Linked DNA regions of Homo sapiens. The protein of the gene in region 3 interacts with the protein of the main gene of each other region in a pairwise test. Each region holds a gene or a part of one and is shown on either strand. Other genes may lie near its edges. The genes, in order: CNOT10, PAN3 and TNRC6C.

Region 1 (7,110 bases), on a different chromosome or scaffold from region 3:
CAGGCTGGAGTACAGTGGCACAATCTTGGCTCACTGCAACCTCCGCCTCCCGGATTCAAGCGATTCTCCTGCTTCAGCCTCCCGAGTAGCTGGGACTACAGGTGCGTGCCACCAACCTGGCTAATTTTTGTATTTTTAGTAGAGATGGGGTTTCACCATATTGGCCAGGCTGGTCTCAAACTCCTGACCTCATGATCCGCCTGCCTCGGCCTCCCAAAGTGCTGGGAGGCATGAGCCACTGTGCCTGGCAAAAAAAAATTTTTTTTAAAATAAAATCATCAAGAAGAACTTTCCTTTAAGTGTCTAGGTTCATTTACAATGCTGATTAGTTGTTTACCTTGCAAGAATATTTTTATATCTGGGAAAGTGATATTCCAATATTTAACAAACTGATCAGATGCTTCAAACAAAGTAACAAAAAATATAAACCTCAAACTTGTGTTGGCTGCTTTACAAGGTTCAGTTCCTCCCACTCTGGACTCACCTGGTGGAGACACTTTCGGGCTTTGTCATATTCGCTCCTCAGGCAGTAAGCGCTGCCAAGGTTGAACAGCATCACAGTCCTGGCAGAGTTGACGGAACTGGGGTAGCACTGAGGGGCCCGCTTACCAGCTGGGGAAAAAGAGTGTAGACACTGGTGAAGAGGCCGTGCCAACAGCAAGGAAGCAACCCAATCTATCGCCTTGAGGAGCCACTTGGCACAGCAGTATTCCTCAGGCAGAAAAACGAACACAGAAGATTTAGAATCTAAATTTTTGGGATGCAGGCCAGGCTACTTAAGTATCACAAAACTTCTTACTTACAGGATTCCATTGCTTCATTTTCACCTTTGTCTGATCCTACAAAAACACGAAAATAAATCTGAGGGGCAGAACAACAGAGCATATTTTCTTTCTTTTCTCCTCGGGCTCAGAAGGTAGAGGGCATATTTTCTTTTCTTTTCTTTTTTTTTTTTTTGAGATGGAGCCTCGCTCTGTTGCCCAGGCTGGAGTGCAGGGGCATGATCTCGGCTCACTGCAACCTCCGCCTCCTGGATTCAAGCGATTCTCCTGCCTCAGCCTCCTGAGTAGCTGGGATTACAGGCATGTGCCACCATCCCTGGCTAGTTTTTGTATTTTTAGTAGAGACGGGGTTTCACCATGTTGGTCAGGCTGGTTTTTTTTTTGGAGATGGAGTTTTGCTCTTGTTGCCGCCCAGGCTGGAGTGCAATGGCACGACTCACTGCAACCTCCGCCTCTTGAGTTCAAGTGATTCTCTGGCCTCAGCCTCCTGAGTAGCTGGGATTACAGGGGCATACCACCATGCCTGGCTAATTTTGTATTTTTAGTAGAGACAGGGTTTCACCATGTTGGTCAGGCTGGTCTTGAACTCCTGACCTTAGGTGATCCACCCACCACAGCCTCCCAAAGTGCTGGGATTACAGGTGTGAGCCACTGTGGCCAGCTGAGAGCATATTTTCTAAAAACCTAACTTTCTTTATGAAATGGAAATTTAATATAAAGCAATTTATTTACTTTTCATGTAGTGGAGATTCCATTAAAAAATGCCAGAATGCTACCACCCACCACCATCTCAAACCTGAGCACTAGTCTTGAGTAAAATGAATGTCACATAGCTTTAATTATTTAATTTTTTTTTTTTCTTCAGACAGAGTCTTGCTCTGTCACCCAGGCTGGAGTGCAGTGGCGTGATCTTGGCTCACTGCAACCTCCACCTCTCAGGTGCAAGCGATTCTCCTGTCTCAGCCTCCTGAGTAGGTGAGATTACAGGCTTGCACCACCACGCCCTACTAATTTTGTATTTTTGGTAGAGACGGGGTTTCACTATGTTGGCCAGGCTGGTCTTGAACTCCTGACCTCAGGTGATCCACCTGCCTCGGCCTCCCAAAGTGTTGGGATTACAGGTGTGAGCCACCGCACCCGACAATTATTTAGAAATTTAGCAATGACTTAAAACAAACTTTTTTTTCTTTCCTTATTTTTAAAATAGAGACAGGGTCTCACCAGGTTGCCCAGGCTGGTCTTGAACTCTTGGGCTCAAGTGACCCTCCTGCTACAGCCTCCCAAAGTGCTGGGATTACAGGCGTGAGCCACCACGCCTGGACTAAAACTGACTCTTGAATGCAATATTTTTACTCCCCTATGGATTTTAGAATCACTCCAAAGGAAAACAAATAAATAGTATCAGAACCAAAATTAACCATTCTAACAGTACCAGCCTTTCAAAAGTGAGAATTTAGATGATGTGATCATTAACTCTCAGGTCTACTTAGCAAACAACTGCTACAAAGTAAGTACAGACAAAAATGTGGAAAGCCAACCTAAAACTTTCTTCTCATTACCACCATGCCTAAATTTCCACACATCCTGAATTATGACAGGAGGGAAATGGAAACAGTGACCAGTTCTGATCAAAGATGTCCTCATTAACCTTGGTCCTGCTCATTTGAAGAGATCCCTAAGGAGACATCAGTGACATTCTCCGGGTTCAAGTGAGTAATGGCATCAGATATTCTGTCGAGAGAGATGAGGGCTTCTGCAGCATATAAATGTCCCAAAAACCTAAAATGAAAAAACAGATTCCAAACTGAAAAGTACAACGTCACAAAAATACCCAATGTAAAATAATGCTGGGTATATTATGTTATTATACATTGGATATAGGTCTCATATTTCATGTCCTTAAATTGAAATCTAAATTTATTTAGGTAAAACGAATCAACTGCCTGGGTGTAGTGGCTCATGCCTTTAATCTCAACACTTCAAGAAGCCTAGGTGGGTGGACTGCTGAGTCCAGGAGTTTGAGAACAGCGTGGGCAACATGGCAAAACCCTGTCTCTACAAAAAAAATACAAAAATTAGCTGGGCGTGGTGGCATACACCTGTAGTCTCAGCTACTCAGGAGGCTGAGGTGGGAGAATCACTTAAGCATGGGAGACTGAGGCTGCAGTGAGCAGTGATCATGCCACTGCACCTCAGCCTGAATGACAGAGTGAGACGCCATCTCAAAAAAAATAAAAATAAAAATTAAGATCGATCTCCTGATCTCGTGATCCGCCCGTCTTGGCCTCCCAAAGTGTTGGTATTACAGGCGTGAGCCACCATGCCCAGCTTTTTTTTTTTTTTTTAACTGGGGACCTTTTGATCTGCTCAAAATCTTAATGACTTTCTACACAAGAACAACACCACCACAAACTAAACTTTTATAGTTTTAAAACTCTCCAGGTTGAGCATGGTGGCTCATGCCTGTAATCCCAGCACTTTGGGAGGCCAAGATGGCAGATCACCTGAGGTCGGGAGTTCGAGACCAGCCTGACCAACATGGAGAAACCCCATCTCTACTAAAAATACAAAATTAGCCGGGCGTGGTGGTGCATGCCTGTAATCCCAGCTACTTGGGAGGCTGAGGCAGGAGAATCGCTTGAACCCGGGAGATGGAAGCTGTGATGAGCCGAGATCACGCCATTGCACTCCAGCCTGGGCAATAAGAGCAAATACAAAAAGTAGCCAGGTGCGGTGGCTCATGCCTGTGAAACTCCGTTTCAAAAAAAGAAAAAAAAAAAAAAAAGAAATTAGTAGGGCATAGTGGCGTGCACCTGTAATCCCAGCTACGCAGGAGGCTGAGGCAGGAGAATCCCTTGAACTGGGGAGGCAGAGGTTGCAGTGAGCTGAGATCATGCCACTGCACTCCAGCCTGGGCAACAGAGTGAAACTGTCTCAGAAAAAGAAAAAAAATTAGCCGGGTGTGGTGGTGGGCTCCTGTAATCCCAGCTACTCGGGAGGCTGAGGCAGGAGAATCGCCTGAACCCAGACAGTGGAGGTTGCAGTGAGTTGAGATTGTGCTACTGCACTCTAGTGTGGGTGACCCAGACAGACTCAGTCACACACAAACACACAAAGTCCAGTTCTCTCATAATGGCCGTATACACCACAATCTGAACACCAGCATCAGCTGCAATTCCCAACATTGGCATTTTGAGTTGGGCAATGATAAGGACGGAAGGTACTTTAGAGGCAACCCAAATGCCTTGAACTGAAAATTAGGATCTTCCCCATCTCCAGGCCTGAATATTGGACAAGATTTTCTTGCAGAAGAGCAGGAGCTCCCTTATATTTGAATTGTGACAAAGTCTCTTATATAGTTGAATGATTTATTACTTTTTTTTGAGATGGAGTCTCACTCTGTCACCCAGTTTGGAATGCAGTGGTACAATCTTGGCTCACTGCAGCTTCTGCCTCCCAGGCTCAAGCAATTCTCGTGCCTCAGCCTCCCGAGTAGCTGGGATTACAGGAGTGTGCCCCCATGCCCGGCTAATTTTCATATTTTCAGTAGAGATGGGGTTTCACCATATTGGCAGGGCTGGTCTCCAACTCCTGACCTCAAATGATTTGCCCAGGTAGGCCTCCCAAAGTGCTGGGATTACAGGTGTGAGCCACAGCGCCTGGCCTTAATTACTTAAAAAAAAAACAAAAACACTAGGTATGTTTGGGGATCACTAAAAAGCCAAAGAGTAAGTAGTTATATTTTGGCATTTGTAAGTATACACCTATACGATGAATGAAAGAACTGTTCTAATGTTGTGCAGAATACTCGTGGCTTTTGATAAAATTTCCAGGATCAGCACCATACAAAAATTCAAGCTGTATTTTATTTTTATTTTTTGAGAGGGAGTCTTGCTGTGTCACTCCGCCTGGAGTGCAATGGTGCAACCGTGGCTCACCGCAACGTCCGCCCCCCAGGCTCAAGTGATTCTCCTGTTTCAACTTCCCGAGTAGCTGGAATTATGGATGCCTGCCACCATGCCTGGCTAATTTTTGTATTTTTAGTAGAGATGGGGTTTTACCACGTTGGCTGGGCTGGTCTCAGACTCCCGACCTCAAATGATCTGCCTACCTCAGCCTCCCAAAGTGCTGGGATTACAGGCATGAGCCACCACACCTGGCCTGTATTTTACTCAATTTTGGTAAAAGAAAAGATAATGTGCTTTGGAAAATTTTAGAATGACAATGATATTAATGAAGAAGTATTTGCAGTTTGACTAAAACTAGCTGATTCTGGAATGATACAGTAGCTTGGAAAGATTTTTCAAATTCTTGTCTATTTTTTTTTTTTTTGAGACAGAGTCTTGCTCTGTAGCCTAGACTGGAGTGCAGTGGTGCAGAGATCTCACTGCAACCTCTGACTCCTGGGTTCAAGCGATTCTCCTGCCTCAGCCTCCTGAGTAGCTGGGATTACAGGTGCCCGCCACTACGCCCAGCTAATTTTTTGTATTTTTAGTAGAGGCAGGGTTTCACCATGTTGGCCAGGCTGGTCTTGAACTCCTGACCTCGTGATTTGCCTGCCTCGGCCTCCCAAAGTGCTGGGATTACAGGCGTGAGCCACCGTGCCTGGTCCCTCAAAGTAGATTTATCACATTGACCACACTCCTTTTTTTGTAGGTCTTCTCTCTGAGGACTTGACTTATTTGGAGAATTAAAGTGCTGCAGTGAAGCCTAGAAGTGGACACTAGAGTCCGAAGTTTTTGTCTCCTAACGCTCAGTACAGCACAAGTGAAAACATTTTCACTGCCGAGGCATGGGTTAAAAAACGTTCTTTTAAACAGTTGCTTTCCTTACAAATATATATTCCACTGGAGGAGTCAAAAGAAGCAACATAAACCACAAACCAAGGAGAAACCTCAAAACTAAAGAAACCAGGGACACACAGGGCAAGTCACACTTACTTAAGAGATCCTGACAGCTTGGGCTGCTGAAGAAGTTTATCTGCATGATTCAAAGCCATGAGGTTATCACCCAAAGCCAGAGCCACGTAGGCACTGCAAGCAAGTATGGAGCACCTATAACACAAAAGGGAAGGGGCCGAAAATCTCATTTTAAACATTGATAATGGTTATATTTGCTAAATAGGAAGAAATGCCCTTTAGCTGTGACAATCTGGACACCAGGAAAGAGGAGAGGAAGCCACGGTACTAATGGTAAGAATTAGATTGATGTATAAAACAATTCTGAAACACAGTTTGGCTATTTACATAAGTCATCTTTAGCTTTCATCCAATTGACCCACATCCCCAACAAAATAACCAATGGATTACAATACATAGCCTGTATGTATGTATGTATGTATATATGTATAGATAAATACACACACACACACACACACACACTATATATATATAGCCTAATGAGAACTAACTTCCATAGAAGTTTGCTTTTAATAACCTAGGAATAAAGCTATAGAATGAGATCTTATTCTTTCTACATATATTTGTGATATGCTAAGAAATAATTAACTTACTAAAGCATTCATTTACTTTAAATGTTCTTTTCTCAACCAATTAAGTCTACAGTTCTTGCTAAACCATAGTATCAAGAGTAACTAAAAAGTTTTATTCACACAGTTACTATTCTTCTAAAGGAATACTGAAGGAAAAAAAACAGGTTAAACAAACATATGTGAAGACAACGTTTAAGTTACATTGATTTCGCTAAGTTGGATTGGAAATCTAAGTTTCTATAATATTTGGTTTTCTACTTCACAGACAGCTCATTTAAAACAAGTCTGGTTAAAGACTTAATACTAATAGATCACTTGAATGTTAAACAACTGCTCCACAAAGCAATCTTAAAATAAACCCTTGTCAAATAGAAATGAAGTCTGAATGGCTAACCACAAATGACCTCACTCAGATACAGGGTTTTGAGTTATGTTTACAAATTACAATACACATATGTATCATTAAGTGCATTCAGGTTGTAATTTTAGTCTAAGGAAGAATGTAACCAGTATATCACCACAGAGTTTTGAAATGTTCTGAAATCCTCTGACTAGAAATGGCTCTTCCTATAAAAAGCACAGCTGGGCAAATTCAAAAGTATTCTGTTTCCTCTTCACTTGCTAACTTTTGGTTCCTAGAATCTTAGAAAACTACCCTAGAATTTGGTTCCTAGAATCTTAGAAAGGCAGCCCCTCAACTCTTAACAACACAGAAAAGTAGAGTGGTCCTTGAGAAGCATAACGAAATTGAGGTTTATGCCTTATACTACCATGGGAGGGCTGAAAGACTGTCTAGTGTGGTTCCTTGTTTAACTGATGTGGAAACAGAGACTCAAA
Region 2 (7,110 bases), on a different chromosome or scaffold from region 3:
TACCCCAAATAAGCTAGAAAGAGTGTCTCTGGGAGACAGGGATCAGGTAACTAGGGAGGGAAGGAGGCTATTTTTCACTATGTACTCTTTTGCACTATTTAAATTTTTAACCTGTGCATGTATTACATTTCTAATTCCAAAAACAAGATATTGTTCTTATTTTTCTGACACTGGCATTTTTTTAAATATTAAAAATATATAACCAGGCATGGTGGTACATGCCTGTAGTCCCAGCTACTCAGTGGACTGAGGAGAGAGATTTGCTAGAGCCCAGGAGTTCAACGCTGCAGCGAGCTATGATTGTACCACAGTACTCCAGCCTGGGCAAATGAGCAAGACCCCATCTCTAAAAAATATATATATACAAACACACACGCTATAATTTAAAACTAGCTTTAGGCAGGGTGTGGTGGTCTTTAATTCCAACATTCTCGGAGGCCAAGACAGGAGGATCACTTGAGCCCAGGAGTTAGAGAACAGCCTGGGAAACACAGGGAGACCCCATCTCCACAAAAAATTCAAAAAGGAGCTGGACATGGTGGCTTATGCCTGTAGTCTCAGCTACTTGGGAGGCTGAGGCAGAAGAATCGCTTGAGCCCAGCAAGTCGAGACTGCAAAGAGCTGTGATCACACCACTGCACTCCAGCATGGGAAACAGAGCAAGACTTTGTCTCAAAAAGAAAAGAAAAAAAAATCAAACTAGCTTTAGAAAAATAGGAACAGTATCTTTATTTTTTACAGAAAAAGCAAGAGAGAGAATGCCAAAAGAGGTATCAGAAAAGACAAAGCTTTTTTCAGGGAAGAGGGCTATTACCTACATGCCAACTGACTCAGCCAGGATTAGTGAGATCTGCATACCCTTACTTAGACAATTCCCAACTGACTATGATGGTTTGACTTTATGATGATGTGAAAAATGATATGAGTTCAGTAGAAACCATATTTCAGATTTTGAGGTTTAATCTTTTCCCAGGTTAGTGATTCGTGGTATCATACTATGTCACAAAGTTGCACAATGGCAGCAGGCTACAGCTCCCAGTGAACCACTCAATTAGGAGGGTAAACAACTGATACAGTATACTGTGCTGTCAGGTAATTTTGCCCAACTGTAGCTAATGTAAGCATTCTGGGCCTATTTAAGGTAGGCTAGGCTAAGCTATGATGTTTGATGGGTTAGGTGAATTAAACGCATTTTCAACTTAACAATAGTTTCTACTTAACAAGGGTTTTATTGGGATGTAACTATTTTAAGTCAGTACTGTTATGTCAAAAATGCGTTTAATGCCTGAATAAACTCATCCTAAAGTCAAAAACTGGAAGTCGAATCATCGTAAATCTAGATATTCCTTAGACTTATGGATGGGGCTACATTCTGATAAATGAATTGTAAATTCAAAATGTGGGGACCATCTGCAAAGAAATGTATTTTCACACAGACCGAATGACTAGCCAAAGGCTAGTTTTATTTTGTAAGAAACCGCAATAAAATTAAAATTTCGGTCCAGTACTAATTACTAAGTACTGAAATGAGACACAAACATATATTGATTTGTTGGTAACAATGTTTTGGTCGATAACAAACCAAATGTATGACGGTGATCACATAAAACTGTAACACTATATTTTTACTGTACCTTTTCTATTTTTTTCTTTTCCTTTTTTTTTTGAGACGGAGTCTTGCTTTGTCACCAGGCTGGAATGCAGTGGCACGATCTCAGGTCGCTGCAACCCTGCAACCTCTGCCTCCCGGGTTCAAGCAATTCTCCTGCCTCAGCCTCCCTAGTAACTGGGACTACAGGTGTGCTCCACCACGCCCAGCTAAGTTTTTGTATTTTTAGGAGACAGGCTTTCTCCATGTTGGCCAGGATGGTCTGTATCTCTTGACCTCATGATCCGCCTGCCTTGGCCTCCCAAAGTATCAGGATTACAGGTGTGAGCCACTGCGCCTGGCCTGTTTAAATGTTTTAATACACAAATACTTACCTTTGTATACCACTGCCTAAAGTATTCAGTACAGTAACAGGCTGTACAAATTTGTGGCCTAGAAGCAACAGGTTATAGACCATATCACCTAGCATGCAGTAGGCTATACCATCTAGGTTTGGGTGCTCACATACCTAGATAATATAGCCAGGAGAGAGCCCTCACCAGGAACCCAACTCCTCATCTGGGACTTCCAACCTCTGAAAGTCTGAGAAAATACTTTTCTGTTATTTAAACCACCTAGCCACTCAAGTTCCTGGATCTATGGGGGGAGGAGGGGCAGGGGGAAGTTAACTACCCAGCCTATAATATTTTCTTTTGGCAACCCAAGCTAATATGAGAGAGAGAGAGAGAGAGAGAGAGACAGAGAAAGAGGAAAAAATATATATATTTAGGTATATATGGTATACATATATTTTAATATATATACTAGATATATGTCTATACCATACAATGTGTAGAAAAGATCTAAACACACAGACTATTAATAATGATTAACCCTGGACAATAAGATGAGGAGACTGATTTATTTTGACTTTATACACTTCTATTCCAATGTAAATTTTTACCAAAAAAGTGTACCTTTCATCATGTAAAAACTGAGGGCCAAGCATGGTGACTCACACCTGCAATCCCAGCACTTTGGGAGGCTGAGGCAGCCTTGAAGTTAGGGGTTCGAGACCAGCCTGGCCAACATGGTGAAACCCTCATCTCTACTAAAAATATAAAAATTAGCTGGGCGTGGTGGCGCAAGCCTGTAATCCTAGCTACTCAGGAGGCCGAGACATGAGAATTGAGAATCACTTGAACCTGGGAGGTGGAGGCTGCAGTGTGCCAAAATTGCGCCACTGCACTCCAGCCTGGGTGACAGAGGGAAACTGTCTCAAAAAAAAAAAAAAAAAAAAAATTAGCTTGGCACGGTGGCTTCCACCTGTCACCCCAGCTACTTCAGAGACCAAGGCAGGAGTATTGCTTGAGGCCAGAAGTTCAAGGCCAGCTCGTCTCCTTAAAAAAAAATTAAAAGTTAAAAACAAATTAGGCTAGGCACAGTGGGTCACGCCTATAATCCTAGCACTTTGGGAGGTCAAGGTGAGCAGATTGCTTGAGGTCAAGAGTTTGAGACCCGCCTGGCCAACATGGTGAAACCCTGTCTCTACTAAAAAGGCAAAGAAATTAGCCAGGCACGGTGGCATGTGCCTGTAAGTCCAGCTACTCATGAGTCTATGGCATGAGAATTGCTTGAACCCAGGAGGCGGAGGTTGCAGTTAGCAGAGATCACACCACTGCACTCCAGCATGGGTGATAGAGTGAGACTCTGTCTCAAAAAATTGTCAAAAAAAAGTCAAAAAATTGAAAGCCAAACCATTAAGTTAGGCACGATCTGTAATATGTACACACATACACACACACACGCAAGTGCAAATAAGACCGTGGAAATGTAAACAAGTAGACTACAGCAATCAATACTGGCCATGATACTGTACTACAGCTACAAAAGATGTTACTATCCTTTATAAAAGAAGAGTACATGAGATATCCGTATTGTATCTTACAATTTCGGGTGATTCTATAATTATCTCAAAATAAAAAGTTCATTTAAAATTGGGGGAAAAATTCCTCAAAATGGCATATAAAAGGATGATATTGGGCCAGGCGCGGTGGCTCACGCCTGTAGTCCCAGCGCTTTCGGAGGCTGAGGCAGGTGGATCACGAGGTCAGGAGTTCAAGACCAGCCTGGCCAAGATGGTGAAACCCCATCTCTACTAAAAATACGAGAATTAGCCAGTCGCGGTGGCAGGCTCCTGTAATCCCAGCTACTTGGGAGCTGAGGCAGGAGAACCGCTTGAACCTGGGCAGCAGAGGTTGCAGTGAGCCAAGATGGCGCCAGTGCACTCCATCCTGGGCTACAGAGTGAGGCTCTGAGGAAAAAAAAAAAAAAAAAAAAAGATGATGTTTTGGTTTGCTTTTGATAATCATTTATCTTCTTAAAGGGTCATTTCAAATGCACTTTCAGTCTATGATCATACCACTCTGAACACGCCCGATCTCATCAAATGCACTTTTACAGGAAAAAGTGCTTTATTTGTTAACTCAATCTCACCTGGAGTTACGTTATCCCTCGAGTTTTCCTCATAAAACTTATCGAAACCGGCCGGGCCCAGTGGCTCACGCCTGTAATCCCAGCACTTTGGGAGGCCGAGGCAGGTGGATCATGAGGTCAGGAGATTGAGACCATCCTGGCTAACACGGTGAAACCCCGTCTCTACTAAAAATACAAAAAAATTATCTGGGCGTGGTGGCGGGCGCCTGTAGTCCCAGCTACTCAGGAGGCTGAGGCAGGAATGGCGTGAACCCAGGAGGCGGAGCTCGCAGTGAGCCGAGACTGCGCCACTGCACTCCAGCCTGGGAGACAGAGCGAGACTCCATATCAAAAAAAAAAAAAAAAAAAAAAACAAAAAAACTTATCGAAACCAAGTATTACCTTATAGATATTTATAGCCCCACTAGAATGTAAACTCCATTAGGGCTGAATTATGTTTTTTTGTTGCTGTTGTTGTTCCTATCACCTTAATCAGAGCTTACCACCTTGGAAGCAGGATATTAAATGAGTGAAATGAACAGTATTATAAAGCCTTCATGATATACTAAGTATATTATTCCAATAAAAATGTTTAAACTTATGCCAGCTATCCTAACAGCAAATCGCCAGTACTCACTTCTCTGTCACTTAGTATAGGTTTGTGGGATGAAAAGGCTAGTCTTGGCTTAAACAAAAACAGCTTTGCCACACGCTACACATTACATATTCCAAAGCTAACATTTGAACTTCAAGTTATCCATGGCACTGCTCTCCTCCATTTGGACAATCACAATTCAATAATCTGTAGCTATTTTACTAGTCTTCAATGTATGCCCTCAAAAATTTGAAGAAGGAAATACAGAGGTTAACTATAGATTATTAATATTTAATAATAGCAATAACTAAGACTGAAACCTCAATATGTGCAGGCAATGCCATGCAATTTTCATAACATCTCCATTTTCCAGATGAGAAAAACTGAGGCTTAAAGGTTAAAAATTCGTTCAGTCACAAAGCTAGTCAAAGAGCCAGGATTCTATCTGAAACATGTCTTATTCACTAGTAACTACATTAGGAGAATTGAAAAGTGTATTTTGGTAAATTAAAACTACTGGGTTTCAAATAATGTACATAAAATACAAATATTGGCATATTTTACCTGTTAAAAATTGTACACTTTGAAGATTAAAGCCATTTTGAAAATCTAGCCAGTTGAAAATATTAGAATTACATCATTAAATGTCAAGAATCGATAATGCAGTTGAATACAAATCAAATCACTCTTAAGCCTTAGAAAAATCCCAAGACTAACAGAAATACGAAATGTTACGTAAGCTACATGGTACGGCATACCTGTAGTCCCAGCTACTCAGGAGGCTGAGGTGCTAGGATCACTTGAGCCCAGGAGTTGGAGTCCAACCTAGACAACACAGCAAGAACTCCCAACCCCCTCCTCAAAAAAAACAAAAACAAAAACAAAAACAAAAAATCAAATTGCAGTTTCCTTATAAGGTTGAAACATCATTGCAACTAAGTGTATTAAGAAAAAGCCTTTGTGCTTCAGTTTTCCAATGGCTGCAAAATAAAGATAAAGTTTTCTCATGCACCCACCTCCAAGGTTTTAACACTATCTGAAACACCAACAAAACAAAAACAATTCTGCAAATGTGAAGTGCTAAAGTTAGAGTCAAAACCTCAAATGCCTAGATATAAAAGTCATCCAGTTAGGGAATGAGTCAAAATGGAGAGAATTATGCTCTATCAACAGCTCTAATTCCAACACAGGTAAGAGACATCCTTAAAGGGAAACCAGAAATTTGTACTTCTATATTAAATCTTTTGTTTCTTTTGTTGTCAAATGATTCAATCAAAACCCACAAACATAGAAATTAAAAACACTAAATTATGGTATATATGGTGGCTCACAGGGTAGGCAGATCGCTTTGAGCCCAGAAGTTTGAGACCGGCCTGGGCAACATGGGGAAACCTCATCTCTACCAAAAATACAAAATAATTAGAGGTGCTTGGTAGCCAGTGCCTGTGGTCCCTGTCTCAAAAAAAAAAAAAAAAAAATTGCCATCTATTTTAACTGCCTCACACACATAATTAACCAATGAAGGCCAGATGTGGTAGCTCACACCTATAATCCCAGTACTTTGAGAAGTCAAGGCAGGAGATTGCTAGAGCCCAGGAGTTCGAAACCAGCCTGGACAACACAGCAAGACATCATCTCTTCAAAATAAAATAAACGGATCAATACTGTCTCAAAACACACTGAATGAGAATACAGTAAAAGGTAGAAAGCAGTCTAAAAAATGAACAATAAGTGTAAAAACTCAAAAAAGCCATACAATTACCAACACAACCTTTTTTCCTGATTCCTGAGCAACATTATTTCCCACTCCTTGGTATCTCTCAGTAATACCTAGGTTGTGATTCCTTATGAAGAAATCTCCATCCATAAGGAATTACTGAGAGATACCAAGAAGCCTATCACAGAAAAGAGGAGCCTTAGGCTTCAGCCAGACAAGCTAAAGCAAACACCACAGAATCTAAATACATAAATCAACTATTTAATCAGACAACTTTTACTAACAAGTGACAAAGTATTAATTTTAAAATACCTTTTCAGCATTAACTGCCTGTCCTCTCGAGTCCCTATATCTCAGTTATTTTCCTAAGATGTCCCACCTTTGAGCCACTGCTAATATTTTTTCCTCCACCTTAAGGGTACTTACCTTCCCCTCCCATCTTCATCTGCTTACATCCTGTCCTCTTTCAAGTCTCAGCCCTTCTACCTATTGTGTGTTAATTAGAAAATCCTCGGCCAGGTGCGGTGGCTCCCGCCAGTAATCCCTAGGAGGCCGAGGCAGGCGGATCACCTGAGATCAGGAGTTTGAGACCAGCCTGACCAACATGGAGAAACCCCGTGTCTACTAAAACTACAATATTAGCTGAGCGTGGTGGTGCCTGCCTGTAATCCCAGCTACTAGGGAGTCTGAGGCAGGAGAATCTCTTGAACCCGGGAGGCAGAGGTTGCGGTGAGC
Region 3 (7,110 bases):
GCTTTCCAGCCAAACCACAGGCACATTTAGAAGCCTATCACTTTAAAGAACCACAGAAGCAGCCAGGCACACTGGCTCACGCCTGTAATCCCAGCACTTTGGGAGGCCAAAGCAGGCGGATCACTTGAGGTCAGGAGTTCGAGATCAGCCTGGCAAACATGGTGAAACCCCATCTCTACTAAAAATAGAAAAAATTAGCTGGGTGTGGTGGTGCACGCCTGTAGTCCCAGCTAATCGGGAGGCTGAGGCATGAGAATCACTTGAGCCTGCGAGGCGGAGGTTGCAGTGAGCCAAGATCACGCCACTATACTCCAGCCTGGGCAAGAGAGCGAGAATCTGTCTCAAAAAAAAAAAAAAAAGAAACAAAAGAAGCAAACACAAAACACATGGCTCCAATGAGTCATATTTCAAGTGGGAAATTCAATGTTTTGGGAACTATCTAGGTGGCCTTATTAGTGATAGTACCTATGGCAATCTAGCTCTTCCTTCCACAAAATAGCATGCTGTGATAAAACTTTATCAGAGATGGCACTTCTATGATAAGACATTACTTATCAATAAATCCAGCAGCATGGGCGACACCTGAGGTCAGGAGTTCGAGACCAGCCTGGCCAACATGGCAAAACCCTGTCTCTACTAAAAATACAAAAATTAGCTTGGTATGGTGGCACACATGCCTGTAATTCCAGCTACTTGGGAGGCTGAGGCAGGAGAGTCGCTTGAACCCAGAAGGTGGAGATTGCAGAGAGCTGAGATCATGCCACTGCACTCCATCCTGGGCGACAGAGTGAGACTTCATCGCAAAAAAAAAAAAAAAGTAATAATAATAAAAAATCCAGCAGAAACTCAAATTGATTTCCATTTCTCCATAAGCACTACCTGCTGTCTTTTCATGCTGCTTCAGGTGACTAGAAAAGGTGCCCGCCAACTGTGCCTTGTATCATCCCTGCCTCACAGCCCAACCTGTCACCCCTGACATCTCCAAATGGGTCTAGAGAGACCGTCCATGCAGAGGCAGGAAGAGCAGCACCCTCACCTCCACTCTTGAGGAGGTAGCGGTTGACATCCTGGATGGTGGTGTTGATGGTAGGCCCAGTGGGGACACTGCCAGGAGTGACGTCAGGGTCATTCTCAGGGTCAATATTCTGCAGTCCTTTCCATGGAACTCCCGGATGGAATTCTGTTTAAGAAACCAAAATGAGAAGCCACAGATCAGAACACCGGCACATTGATTCACGAAATTTTAAAAGATGTTTTGTCCTGTTTGTAGAAATTTTTATAATCTGCTAATTAAATTAGAGGTACACCTTATACTCTCTTTCATTAAAGCAATCAATCCTTTGGAACAAACTAGAACCAGGTATCACAGCTATCATATTAAGCTAGTTTTCACACAGGGTTGGAATAGTTTTACCGGATAGTGTGCAGTGTGCTTCCTCCCTGCCACCCCTTCCACTCCTCATGCTGAACTAAGGGTTTACAGAAAAATGCCTGATGCTAACCATACCCAAAATTGATCTGACAAATGGATTTCCAAGGAAAATGCCAAAGCTCTGGGCTTAACGCTTCCAGATCCTTAGCTCAGATTCTGGGTCCTCTCAGCCTAATCACTCTCTGCAGGCTTGGAGCACATTCTGACCTGCTGCTGTTGCACAGAAGTGTTGCATGGTCTTACCTGGGGGCCAGTTGATGCTAGAGCCATTTGAGATTTTATCACTGTCAGATTTGGCACGTGACCAGCTATGGGGAACAGCTACGGGAGGACTGGCTGGTGACTCACTGTTCTGGATTAAATCGTACCGGCCATAGGAGTCATCAATGGAGGACTTACCTGGAGGCCCAATGCTTAGACCTCCAGGGATAGCACCTATGGGGACAATAGGAAACAAAGAAGCGAGTGAATACTCTCCAGTTGAGAGACACCAGAAGATACCCTAAGCCTCCCTATGTACCTTCTGTTCTAGGTCCAATGCCTTGCCCTATTCAGTTACATGAATTGTAAGACTTGGTCTGTCTAGGATTCTGTAAGAATCAATGACTTTATTTATTTATTTATTTATTTTTTTGAGACAACTTCTCACTCTGTGGCCCAGGCTGGAGTGTAGTGATGTGATCAGGGCTCAACCTCCTGGGCTCAAGCGATCCTCCCACCTTGGCCTCCCAAGTAGCTGGAACTACAGGTGTGAGCCACCATGCCTGGCCAGTGACTGTTTCAGTTAGCTACAATTTCAGCCCTGAAAGATTGAAACCCTTGAAGAACAATTTCAGTTTGTCCAGTAAGAAGTCTTTACAAAATACATATCCATACCATGGGAAGCTGCCCTTAATAAATCTTTTTGGGGACAACTTATGAGTCTTTGTGATTAGCTATCAAATTTGCTGTTATCTCTTCCCTCCTTTTAGTCTGAAACCCTCACTACGGAAGAACACAGTGGATGTTAAAAATTCATACAGAACCAAACCAACCAGCTACAGGCAGCAGAGCCCTCCTGCTAAGAAAGGTGCCAGCAGTGTGTGATGATTTTCCGTAAGTTAACCATGAGACATAGTTTCCTTTTTCTTTTTAGAATGCTTCCTATCAAGAGAGAACTACGTAACCTACTGAATTTCCTTTGCTGTTTATTCTACCAGGAAGTTCAGAGTTAAATTTAATGCTTGAGAGTGAGATTACCTCCTATGGTTATCATTTTTGCTTCCACCTTACTCGTGTGTCCATCAGTAAAGAGTTCCCGATGGGGACACCAGTTTGGAGTAAGACAGACTGCTTGGATGGAGGGGAATAACCAACAGAAATGCACCCTAGTATTTACAGCTGCAGTTCCCATACATACTGTATATTTGATTTTCTATTTATGTTTTACCATTTTATTGAAAACATTTCAGCAGACTCAAGTTTTTGTTGATGAATATAGATACATAAAAAAAGTACACAGGCTATGACCTAGATTCTTTGCTGCTCTGGGGTTTTCAAATTATTTCTAAGTTTGTAGCTAAGATCTAATGGTTGGGTTTTAAGAAGTTTGATCAGTGACTAGCTGAGATCTTATATGCACTATAATGGAATGGGTTATTTTAAATCCAACTTTCAGTGCTCAATTCTTAGAAAAGTATAGAATGGCCATGCTATACAACAGGACGATCGATTAATAAGCCAGCAGTGATCCCACCACAGGCATCCTAGCTCAGACGTACCATGCTTGCTAGGGTTCTGCTCCAGGGGGGAAGCGGCACTGGGCAAGTTATCCATGGAGTTGGGGTGCGTCCACTGGGGGAGGCGTGACTGGGACTGGGATGGGTCCTTCACCGACAAGCCACCGGTCATGTCCATGCTGTTGACATTCATGTTTGGGTTCAGTCCAGCTAAAGAGAGAGATGCGGTTAGGATTCGCCTGCTCCTCTAAATGACTTCATTCTAAAGCTCTCCTATAGAAGCTATTTCAGTCTTCGCTTACAGCAAATTTTTTTTTTTTTTTGAGACGGAGTCTTGCTCTTGATGCCCAGGCTGGAGTGCAATGGCACAATCTTGGCTCATTGCAACCTCCGCCTCCCAGGTTCAAGCGATTCTCCTGCCTCAGCCTCCCAAGTAGCTGGGATACAGCAAAATATTTTAACTATAACTTTTAGTGCTGGTGAAAAAATACTACTTATCGTCATAACAACATGTATTTCTAGGAATATTATTCCTAAATTAAGGTGAAAATGTGAATAGTCTTTGATTAAGTAAGGCCCACAATTCTCTTCATTTTACTTGTTTCAGTGCTGAATAAACATGGTCCTGAGGCTTCTCAGAGTCCACAGGAAAATAGAAAAAGTCCAAACTATTAGGAAAATCTTTCTTTGTTTTGGGATATCTTACGGAAACTCATCAGGTCAAAAACACTTTTCCAGAACTCTAAAGTACCACCTATGAAACAGACTGATAGGATAATTCAGTTCTACCTTTAGTGAGTTTCCTTTACAAAAGTCTGCTCTGAAAGAGTCTGTGAATTAAGTATCAAACTACTTTTAAGGAACTGAACTATTTGACAGCGGGGGTGCTGCCATCTGCCCCCAGCTGGGATGGTGAGCTGAGGCTTCTGGGCTCATTCCTTATAGCTAAAAGCAGGTACCTGGTTATTTGTCCAGGACCTGCACTAAGCTAGGTTAATAAAGAAAGATGATGAGGAGGACAATGAAAAGAAGGTTGAAGTAAAGAGTTTCTGATGAGGACACTAGTTTGGAGCAGGACAGACTGCTTGTTTGGAAGGGAATAACCAGCACAAGCGCCCCCCTCCCCTTGTATTTCCAGCTGCAGTTCCCCTTACCACATACACATACCCCATAGGTCCTTACCGTAAGTACTACGCCACACGGTACGTAAGCACAGTGAGCCTCTACTACTTAGCCAGGTGCTGAACATTCTGGTTCTTACCTTTATTTCAGAGGCTGCAAATTCAAATGCCCATAGGAGCCAGGTGGGCCATGCACATGAAGAAGTGGGCTTCATGGGGACTGTGGCAAACCAGAGAGTGTCTGTCCTGTCTAAATAAACAGGTGCTACTGGGGCCAACCACCTATTGCTACCTGGAACATAGACCCACTATAGCCATTTTTAAGAGAAGCCAGAAGCCACTTTCCCCAATTTTTGAATGTTGGCATTAACACACACCTATGCACATGCACACACACACTTCGCAGACCTAACAAAACGCCTTTGCAAGCCCATCAGTGCCACAGGGCTGCCTACTTGCAATCTCTGCTGTGTGGGTTCTTTTCGTTTCAGCTTGTACAGATCTAGCCAGGTAAGGTGGCAACAATGTCAGGGCTTCAACCTGGCCTTCAGAATGCTCCAAATTTCACAATTTGGCGCCAACCCATCTCTCCCAACTTTCCCCTCTGGGAAAGTCAGCTAGACTGGCCTGGCCCTTGCAAAATGGGCCCCTGAAACAAGCCAGGCCTCTTTCTTCTGTGCTACGTGAGGCTTCCCCTTTATTTGGAAAGGCTTCCTCTTTATTTACTGTAATCCTATCCAATCATTTGAGGTTCAAGCTTAATCCTACTCTCTGATTTTTCTTTCACCACTCAAAGTGAAAGTGAACTTTTCCTTCTCTAGAGCCCTGTAAGAATCACATGACACTGGTATCAAGGTTATTTTTTCCCATTTATATGCCTGCTCTTCCTATCTAGATGGCGAACTCCAGGTGGCAAAAGACTGAGAATAACAACGACAGGCTGAACATGAGGGAAGGAAGGTAGCTAGGAGCCCCCACTACTGACCATGGGCTGCTGGTTTCTTTACATGAATTGATGAGTGTCTAACAGGCTCTTCAACATAGGTGCTGCTGCAGAGAAATGCTGAGAGCCAACAAGATAGGCAATTTTACAACCAAAGTTTCCTAGACTTTATTAGTTATTTGCTTTTAATACATTTATAACTTTACTGTGAATATTATAAAATATTATCCAAATTATTTTTCAACTAATTTCAAAGATTCACTGCATGAATTCTTTAACTTGTACTAAGAGAAAAAATCCTTAAGAGTAAAGATAAGTGGTCGGGCACGGTGGCTCACGCCTGTAATCCCAACACTTTGGGAGGCTTAGGTGAGCGGATCACTTGAGGTCAGGAGTTTGAGACCAGCCTGGCCAACATGGTGAAACCCAGTCTCTACTAAAAATACAAAAATTAGCCAGGCGTGGTGATGCATGCCTGTAATCCCATCAATTTGGGAGGCTGAGGCAGGAGAATTGCTTGAATCCAGAAGGTGGAGGTTGCAGTGAGCCGAGACTGCGCCATCGCACTCCAGCCTGGGCAACAGAGCAAGACTCTATCTCAAAAAAAAAAAAAAAAAAAAAAAAAAGTAACGATAAGTGTACTTTATCCTCCAAATATAGGTTAAGAAGACAGGTGAATAATAGAAAGCTGAAGCTAATGCATTTTAGGATAATAGGTGGGATGAAATTTGTTTCTAAAACAGAAGCACTTACATAAGTAGCTGACATTTTACAAAGTGTTTGCTATGTGCTAGGCACTATTTAAGAACTTTACATATTAGGCCAGGTGTGATGGCTCATGCCTGTAATCACAGCACTTTGGGAAGCTGAGACCAGCAGGATCACTTAAGGCCAGGAGTTTGAGGCTGCAATGAGCTATGATCACGCCACTGCACTCCAGCCAAAAAAAAAAAGAGAGAGAAAAAAAAAAGAAAAAAGAGAACTTTACATATTAGCTCATTTAATCTTTAAAACAAACCTAGGAGTTAAGTATTTCCACATTACAGATGAAGAAATTAAGGCATGGCTCAGTATGGTGTCTCAGGCCTGTAATCCTAACACTTAGGGAGGATCACTTGAGGCCAGGAGTTTTGAGACTTGCCTGGGCAACATAGAAAGACCCTGTCTCTACCAAAAAAAAAAGAAAGAAAAATAAAGAAATTGAAGCAAACAGCAGCTAGGCAAGTTGCCCAAGTTAGTAGTGAGCCTCTTGGTGGTGAGTTGGGACTCAAACCTAGGGAGTCTAATTCCTAAGTCAGGTCTTACCTACTTCGACACAAAGGGCTCTAATGGATGAGACAATAATTAAGGAACGAGATCATCTAGTCTAGTATTTATCAATCTCATATTAAAGATATACCACATTTATAATATGTCAAGTAAAAAGGATTCATATGATTACAATATACCGCTCTTTTCAGAGACATTGAATAGAATTAGATAAATGAATATTATCTGCTGGCAGCAAATTCACTACCACTCAACTGGCCTTTGCCCCTTTACAGATGTATTTTCCAAGTTACCGATAACCCTTTGTCCTGTATCTACAGACTCTAATAGCAATCAACAGACAAGCCTAAAGTGCTTTCACTAACTTCTGAATTCTTACGGCAAATTAGTCCATGCAGAATCAATTTACTAATTTATACCCTCTGGTGTCTTCAGGTATGTGAGCTGTGTCTCTCCTGACTGGCCTGACCTCGAGGCCTGGCACCATGTCTTCTACTGACCTGCGGGTTTCAAGTGCTGAGTGTGCTTCTACAAGTTAGATTTCAACATATATATGTTGATTTGGTCGATTATACAAATCACATTTCATACAAAATGAGTTGTATCAACAACCACTGCTTTTTAAGA

What was found.
Region 1: the proteins of TNRC6C (region 3) and CNOT10 interact in binary tests that used the Homo sapiens proteins (3 or more experiments, as listed by UniProt).
Region 2: the proteins of TNRC6C (region 3) and PAN3 interact in binary tests that used the Homo sapiens proteins (3 or more experiments, as listed by UniProt).

What each region holds. Positions count from the first base shown.
Region 1 is NC_000003.12:32,758,184-32,765,293, reverse strand, and holds part of CNOT10 (CCR4-NOT transcription complex subunit 10), read right to left. Parts: intron 5,837-7,110; coding exon 5,723-5,836; intron 2,562-5,722; coding exon 2,431-2,561; intron 840-2,430; coding exon 804-839; intron 613-803; coding exon 485-612; intron 245-484; exon of another isoform or gene 117-244; intron 1-116. UniProt on the Homo sapiens protein: Component of the CCR4-NOT complex which is one of the major cellular mRNA deadenylases and is linked to various cellular processes including bulk mRNA degradation, miRNA-mediated repression, translational repression during translational initiation and general transcription regulation.
Region 2 is NC_000013.11:28,141,538-28,148,647, reverse strand, and holds part of PAN3 (PAN2-PAN3 deadenylation complex subunit PAN3), read right to left. Parts: intron 1-7,110. UniProt on the Homo sapiens protein: Regulatory subunit of the poly(A)-nuclease (PAN) deadenylation complex, one of two cytoplasmic mRNA deadenylases involved in general and miRNA-mediated mRNA turnover.
Region 3 is NC_000017.11:78,087,690-78,094,799, reverse strand, and holds part of TNRC6C (trinucleotide repeat-containing gene 6C protein), read right to left. Parts: intron 3,361-7,110; coding exon 3,193-3,360; intron 1,868-3,192; coding exon 1,676-1,867; intron 1,181-1,675; coding exon 1,037-1,180; intron 1-1,036. UniProt on the Homo sapiens protein: Plays a role in RNA-mediated gene silencing by micro-RNAs (miRNAs). Required for miRNA-dependent translational repression of complementary mRNAs by argonaute family proteins.